Linked DNA regions of Homo sapiens. Each later gene encodes a partner of the first gene's protein in a complex. Each region holds a gene or a part of one and is shown in the gene's direction. Other genes may lie near its edges. The genes, in order: YEATS2 and TADA3.

Region 1 (4,373 bases):
TTTCCACCTCACTGTTAAACCCTAAGAGTAGGGGAACACCAACACACTCATCCTGACCTGTGACCTCACCCCCTTCTCCATGAAATTTGTTTATCTCCCCAGTTCCTATTATCTCTTGAGTCTTAGCTTAAGGTTCAAGGAAGCCTTTCTTAGTTTTTTTTTTTTTTGAGATGGAGTTTCACTTTTGTTGCCCATGTTGGAGTGCAATGGCTCACTGCAACCTCCACCTCCCGAGTTCAAGTGACTGTCCTGCCTCAGCTTCCCAAGTAGTTAGGATTACAGGCATGCCCAAATACACCTGGCTAATTTTTGTATTTTTAGTAGAGACGGGGTTTCACCATGTTGGCCAGGTTGGTCTTGAACTCCTGACCTCAGGTGATCCGCCCGCCTCAGCCTCCCAAAGTGCTGGGATTACAGGCATGAGCCACCGTGCCCAGCCAGGAGGATCTCTCGAGCCCGGAAGTGTGAGACTAGCTGTGGTGATAGTGAGACCTGTCTAAAAAAACCAAAATTAGCCTGGGGGTGGTGGTTCACGCCTGTAATCCCAGCACTTTGGGAGGCTGAGGCGGGTGGATCACCTAAGGTCAGGAGTTCGAGAGCAGCCTGGCCAACATGGTGAAACCCTGTCTCTACTAAAAATACAAAAATCAGCCAGGCGTGGTGGCGCGCGCCTTGTAATCCCAGCTACTTGGGAGGCTGAGGCAGGAGAATCGCTTGAACCCGGGAGGCGGAGGCTGCAGTGAGCCAAGATCATGCCACTGCACTCCAGCCTGGCAACAGAGGGAGACTCTATCTCAAAAAAAAAAAAAAACACAAAAAACAAAACACCACTTATATTTATTATGCGTTGATAAAAACATTAAATACATTAAAAATTTGGTAACATGTATGTAAAGTATAAAAAAAAAAGTGAACTTCCTAAACCCACCACTCAGCTCCAGTAGTAAATCGTTATACAGTGAGAAGGGATTGAAGGGGAACAGAAGTTCCCCAAGACCAGTTGGGAGGCTATTCATAGTCTTGGGCAGAGAGATTACAGGGTCTTGGGTAGGGTGGTAGAGTTACAACGAAAGAGAATGTTGGCCTCAAGTGATATTTAGGTGGAAAACTGGACTTGGATTGTCACTAGCTAGTGTGACTGAGATAAGTCTCAAGCCTTCCCTGCCTCAGTTTCTTCATCTGTAAAATGGGCTAGAAATAACTACTGTTATTTTGTATACCCAGCACTTAGCACATGGGTTGGCACAAAGATGGCACACACAAACATCATAGTCACTATTGTGATTAATAGGGAAGCTCATACACGCCGGCAGAATGAATATTCTGTCAAACTTGGGGTTGAAATTCGCCATCTTCTGGGGCAGGAAAGTGATGGACGACTGTGCCTTTGCAAGAATCGACGCCCACACTGCCCAGGAAGTGCCCTCGCGGGCCGGGGTCCCAGCCCGGACCAGCCCCGCCCCGCCCCGCCCCGCCCTCATCCCTGGGAGCTCCGCCCCGAGGCCGCGCGCGCCGCCGCGCGCGCCCCGACGCGCCCAGCTGCTGACGTGCGGGGCGGAACGCGCCGGGCGGGCTCCACCGCGCCGTGTGCTTCCGCAGGTTGCGGGGGTCGCTGGGGCCTTGTGGCGGGGCAGCTCCGCGGGGCTTCGCCCGCTCTCTCACCTCGCCGTGCTCTCTCGCGGCGGCCGGCGGGGCCCGCGCTGCAGCCGGAGACCCGGAGAAAGGGTGAGTGTTGGCGGGCGCAGGAAGGGACCGGCCGGGAGCGCGCCCCGCTCTCCGGGGCATTGTTTGGGCGGGGGCGGCGCGGGCACGTGCGCGCCCCTCCCCCATCGGCAGGCAGCGCGGCAGCGGGACCCGGTGAGGCCCCGGGGCCGAGGGGAGGGCAGGGAGGATCCCAGGTGCGGGCCGGGGAGCCGCAGAAGCGGGAGCCTGGAATTGGAACGTGAGTTGGGGGCTTCCTCTTCAGCGGGGCGCTGCGCTGAGGGGATACGGGACCCCGAGCCACAGCGGCCGGAGCTTTTAGGATGTTAAGCTCTTGGCCTTGGAGGCAAGATTTGGCCCCAGCACCAGAAAGTCGTGGGTTTACCGAAAGGATCCTGGAATGCCCCTCCAACCTGTCGCCATCCCCACCGGGCCTCCCTGGGATGGAGGGGAGGGGTCAGAGAGGCTTTGGGGGTCCAGGGATGGGGCCGGGGCCAACGCGCCGGAGCTGCGGGCAGTGCGGGGCGGAGTGGAAGCCTCGGAAAGTGAGGACTCCTGCAGGAAAGGCTGGCTTGAAGGGCTGTGGCCAGACTGCAGAAGACAATGAGGTTTTCTCCATCATGAATGTGATTATGTTAAGAAATAGAAACCAGAGGAAGAGAAATGCCATCAGCAATCTTACAGGCCTGACACATCATTTTTTTTTAGTTTGATGTTGGCTAGTATTTTCATCTAAGCATTCAGCAGTTACAGAGTTGACCCACGTTTTCCATTCCCTTTTCTCGCTCACATGTAAAAAATGCGGTATAATATTATATAGAATTCAGCAATATCATTTCCCCTTTCTTAATGAGTAGAGGGTATTCAGCGTAGAAAAATTTAAAAATACAAGCAAAGCCAGAGAAAAATGCCCGCAGTTTTACGATCTAGAGATACTACCCTTGGATGTATATTCCTGTTTGTGTATACTCTTTAAAAGATAGGGCAGATGATGCCCTGATAAGGAGTTTAGTTTTTCCCGGGAAGCCTTTGAAGGTTTTGAGAAGGCGAGTAGCATGATCCGACTGCTATGTAGAGGAAGAGGGCTGGGGAGGAACCTACGAGGTCAGTTACTGTGCTCTTTGCAGTAGCTTGGACTAGGCCCGTGGCAGGGAGATGGGGAAGTATAAACAGATTTTTAAATGTTTTAAGGTAGAATGAACAAGACTTGGATTGGTGAGGGAATGGTGGGAATCTTTGCTTTTTTGATTTTTGTTTTGAGCAACTGAGTAGGTGGTGGTGCTGTTTACTGAGATGAAGAATGGAAGAGAGAAATTTGAGGTGGGAAAAACGAATTCTATTTTAGATGTATTAAATTTTAGATGCATGTTAGTTATGAAGTCGGTGTGTTGAGGCAGTTGGATGTAGAGGGCTGGAACTCAAGGAGGAGAGAGGCTAGAGCTAGAGATAAAAATCTGGGAGTGGCTGGGCGCGGTGCTCACACCTGAAATCCCAGCACTTTGAGAGACCGAGGCGGGTCGCTTGAGCCCAGATATTCTAGACCAGCCTTGGCTACAAGGCAGGAAGGACCCCGTCTCTTAAAAAAAAAAAAAATTGGGAGTGATCTGTACGTAGATGATATTCAAAGGTATGGTGCTGTGTGAGATCACTGAGGGGAAAGAGTGTGGAGAAGTGAAAAGGGCGCAGACACTCAAATACCTCTAGGTCTGGTAGAGGAAGAAGGTTGGGGAAAGGACGCAGGAAACAGCAAGTGAGGTAGGAGAAAAAGCTCCTACCAAAATGGCATGTATCATGGCAGCCAAAAGAGGTGTTTCTGGAAGATGTTGAATTGGTCCTTTTATCAGGGCTTCTGAGATGTTCATTAAGATTGTCAATTGAATTTGGCAACACGGTGGTTATTGGTTTTGGTCATTGGTCTTCCTGTCCATAGTTCTGGAAGTGGGAGGTGGGAACCGGATGTGAGGAAATGAAACTAATGAGTGCAAATTAGAAAAAAAGTGCCCCATTTCCATCTGCCCCAAAACTAAACTTAATCGATGAAAAATGGTGTCTTGTGTTTTTTTCATTTATTGATTACTAGTATGTTTGAACATTTTTTTCCCATTTATTGGCTGTTTGTGAATTTCTTTTCCTGTTCTCTGTCATCTTTTGTTATTTCCTAATTGATTGTCAAAAGTTCTTTAGATATTAAAAATAGGTAGCTTGACATACAGCATGCAGAGTTCTCCCCACATGTTTCTCAGTTTCAAATGCTTCATGTTCATTCAGTGGATGCATGATATTTTACTGTGGGTTATTTTTTATTATAAAATCCATAGGAAGAAGAGAATTAACATTTAGGTTGTAGATCTCTGAGTGTAGCCCACATACGATGTACATTACCCTGTATTTTCTTAGAATAGATTCTCAGAAATAGTTGGTCCTGTCCTCTTCTCATCAACTACGGATTTTTATTTGAATGTTCATTGCCACGTTCTTGGATTGTTCCCTATCTCCCTGCCTTTGGTCCTGCTCTGCTTTCAGTCTGTTTTCTGTCGTGATACCCAGTAGATGGTGGGAGTTGATGCAGTTTTCTCACAGAAAACAAGACTTGTGAAGCAGATTTTTTCTTTTTCTTTTCTTTTCTTTCTTTTTTTTTTTTTTTTTTGAGACAGAATCACAGTCTGTTGCCC
Region 2 (3,810 bases), about 170 Mb from region 1:
TCCGCACACTTGAGGAGTTACTGAAGCCCCCAGAAGATGAGGCTGAGCATTACAAGGTAGAAACTCTGGGCCTTGATAGACATGATGCGGAACAAGAGAGTTCAGAGGTGCCTGAGAAGTAAAGCTACCAAAGCCATGCATCATCTTCCTTCCCCAACCCTGCCCAGTCTGCTGTCTGCTCCATCAGTGCCTCCAGACACCTAGGCCCAAACTCAGCTTTCTCCGTGCACTGCCTCCCCTCTACCCCAGCCAAATGTCAACACGCCCTCAAGCATCTACTTAAGTGAAGTCTGCCCATGTTCCTTTATCCCCATCCCCTCTGCTTTGGTCCAAGCCTTCATCAACTTCTATCCAAACAGCCTCTTAACTCTCTTCCTGTTTCGAGGCCTCTGGAGGAACCTTTCTTCTTTCTTTAAGATATAAAACTTGGGCTGGGAGCAGTGGCTTATGCCTGCAATCCTAGCACTTTGGGAGGCCGGGGCGGGCAGATTGCTTGAGCTCAGGAATTTGAGACCAGCCTGGGCAACATGGTGAAACCCCATCTCTACCAAAATACAAAAAATTAGCCAGGCATGGCGGTGTGCGCCTGTAGTCCCAGCTACTCGGGAGGCTGAGTCAGGAGGATCTCTTGGACCCGGGAGGTGGAAGTTGCAGTGAGCCGAGATCACGCCACTGCACTCCAGCCTGGGCAACAGAGCAAGACTCCGTCTCCAAAAAAAAAAAAAAGATATAAAAGTCACCTCACGCCTGTAATCCCAACACTTTGGGAGGCTGTGGCAGGCAGATCATCTGAGGTCAGGAGTTCAAGACCAGCCTGACCAACATGGTGAAACGCCGTCTCTACTAAAAATACAAAAATTAGCCTGGCACGGTGGCATGCACCTGTAATCCTGGCTACTCGGGAGGCTGAGCCAGGAAAATCACCTGAACTGGGGAGGCATCGGTTGCAATGAGCCAAGATCGTGCCACTGTATTCCAGCCTGGGTGACAGAAGGAGATTCCATCCATTAAAAAAAAAAAAGCCGGGTGCGGTGGCTCAAGCCTGTAATCCCAGCCCTTTGGGAGGCCGAGGCGGGCAGATCACAAGGTCAGGAGATTGAGACCATCCTGGCTAACACGGTGAAACCCCGTCTCTACTAAAAATAGAAAAAATTAGCCGGGCGTGGTGGCGGGCGCCTGTAGTCCCAGCTGCTCGGGAGGCTAAGGCAGGAGAATGGCGTGAACCCGGGAGGCGGAGCTTGCAGTGAGCTGAGATTGTGCCACTGCACTCCAGCCTGGGTGACAGAGCAAGACTCTGTCTCAAAAAAAAAAGAAGATATAAAACTATGTTTTAATGATGAAAATAAATAAAACATGCTCCATTAAAGAAAATTTAGAAAATACAGAAAAATGTTGAGGGAGAATCCTCCCATAGGTGAGCTGTCATGATCAGATGTGCTCATGACATGGCGCTGCATCCAGGCCTTTCTTCCTCCCGTTATCTACAGGATCAAGTCCACGCATCCCAGTCCTTGCTGGCACAGCTCCAGTGCCCCTCTCCATTTTCCTCGGCCATATCCCTCTTCATTGCCGTGTTGACCAGTCCCACCAAGTATCTCGCCCTCATTCCAGGACACCACAGCCTCCTCGCTGGTCTCTGGGCCTCTGGCAAGCTCTTCTCTCCCTCTTGTCTCCTTGACAGACTTGACTCACCCTTCAAGGCCCTGATCTCATGTTACCTCCACCAAAGCACTCTTTCAGATTCCCCAGCAGAAAGTTAGTCAGTCTCTCCTTTGTGCTGCCACAACACTTTGATCTCTCTCTTTCACTTCACTTATCTGATTTCTTAAAAATTTATCTGAAAAAGAGTTCATACAGACAGCAGTAAATTCAAGCAATACAAAAGGTAATTCCCTGTCACCCGTGACCTGAAGGCTCCTAATTCTCTCGAGAGGCAATTGCTGTGACCTGAGACAATCTGTGTACGTATTCTGCACCTTCTATCTTGGGAATTATTTCAGATTGGCTTCTGTGTGTGTGTCTTAGTTCTTTTTGGACCTGTCTCCCTTACTAGAGTGTGAAGTACAGGTTTTATCTTCGTTGTACTTTCTTACCTACACCTGACACTGGGCTTGGCCTTGGACTAGGGACTTGAGAGAGATATAAGATAGGTAAGTGAATGAATGAATGAAGCATGGCTGGCCAGTGCTTACCCACTCAGGGTTGGGTGCCATCTTTTCCACAGATCCCACCCCTGGGGAAGCACTACTCCCAGCGCTGGGCCCAGGAGGACCTGCTGGAGGAGCAGAAGGATGGGGCCCGGGCAGCGGCTGTGGCTGACAAGAAGAAAGGCCTCATGGGGCCACTGACCGAACTGGACACTAAAGGTAGGCCTCTCACCTCCCTGCCAACCCCAGGTCAGGACTTGAATTCCAGAACTTCAGCCCACCTCCCCTCCTTTCCTGTGCCCGCTTAGATGTGGATGCCCTGCTGAAGAAGTCTGAGGCCCAGCATGAACAGCCGGAAGATGGATGCCCCTTTGGTGCCCTGACGCAGCGCCTCCTGCAGGCCCTGGTGGAGGTGAGCAGCCTAACCCAAAAGAGGAACCATATTTACTTTGTGTTTTAATGTGTTATGCTTATTTTTTATCGGAATTTATCATACATTTATTAGGTTGGTGCAAAAATAGGTTGGTGCAAAAGTAAAAACCTGGACTAATATATAGCAAAAGATTGGGAATAATATATAACTTGTGCACCTAATAGAAAAGTGCACAGATCATAAATGTACAGTTTTCACAAATGAGCTTGTATTACCAGCCTGGAGATTACAAAATGAAACATTACTATATCCTAGAAGCCCCTCTCATGCCCCTGTTTTTCTCCAACTTTCCCCAAAGGTAGCCTTACTCCACAATTACTTTTGCTAAGCATCTGTTGGAGGGGCTTTATACACATCCTCCCACTGGAGGCCAGGACAGTGGTTAACGCTGTGTTACAGATAAGAAGATTGAGGCTCAGAAAAGGGAACTGTTCACTTGAGGTCTCACACACCAGGATTCAAACCCTAGCTTCAGGGGCCCTGTCTTTATACCTGCTGGTTGACCTTAGACACACCCTCACACTCTTTCACCTCATTGAGACTCAGTTTTCTATTCTGGCTCAAACACAAGAGTTTATCTCATGGAACAGTCTGGGTACATGTTGCAGGTTATCTAAGGTAGGGGAAGGGGCAGGTCTCTATCTCATATCATCAGACAGGGACCCCAGCTGACGGTGGCCTTGCAGTCTGCACAAGGTCACTCTGGGCGTAATTGTCACTCCAGTCCCACAGAATAAGAGCAAGGAGGCCGGGCGCGGTGGCTCACGCCTGTAATCCCAGCACTTTGGGAGGCTGAGGCGGGCGGATCACAAGGTCAGGAGATCGAGACCATCCTGGCTAACATGATGAAACCCCGTCTCTACTAAAAATACAAAAAAATTAGCCGGGCATAGTGGCAGGCGCCTGTAGTCCCAACTACTTGGGAGGCTGAGGCAGGAGAATGGCATGAACCCAGGAGGCGGAGCTTGCAGTAAGCCGAAATTGTGCCACTGCACTCCACAGCCTGGGTGACAAAGTGAGACTCCATCTCAAAAAAAAAAAACAAAACAAAACAAGGAGGAGTGTGTGAAGGAAACTTTTTGGCCCATGCCTAGCTATGGCTCTTATCTCTTCTGATCACTTTCCCCTGGAGAGAACTTGTCACATGACCATACCCGCCTGCAAGAGAGCCTGGGAAGTACAACTGGACAGGCATTGCCTAGCTGCCGTGGAGGAAAGAAGAGTATGGCA

What was found.
Region 2: YEATS2 (region 1) and TADA3 share a complex: the UniProt entries of both Homo sapiens proteins name them as parts of the ADA2A-containing complex.

What each region holds. Positions count from the first base shown.
Region 1 is NC_000003.12:183,696,269-183,700,641, forward strand, and holds the start of YEATS2 (YEATS domain-containing protein 2), read left to right. Parts: upstream 1-1,528; 5' UTR 1,529-1,725; intron 1,726-1,809; exon of another isoform or gene 1,810-1,942; intron 1,943-4,373. UniProt on the Homo sapiens protein: Chromatin reader component of the ATAC complex, a complex with histone acetyltransferase activity on histones H3 and H4. YEATS2 specifically recognizes and binds histone H3 crotonylated at 'Lys-27' (H3K27cr).
Region 2 is NC_000003.12:9,785,755-9,789,564, reverse strand, and holds part of TADA3 (transcriptional adapter 3), read left to right. Parts: coding exon 1-56; exon of another isoform or gene 57-1,760; coding exon of another isoform or gene 1,761-1,837; intron 1,838-2,224; coding exon 2,225-2,366; intron 2,367-2,455; coding exon 2,456-2,559; intron 2,560-3,810. UniProt on the Homo sapiens protein: Functions as a component of the PCAF complex. The PCAF complex is capable of efficiently acetylating histones in a nucleosomal context. The PCAF complex could be considered as the human version of the yeast SAGA complex.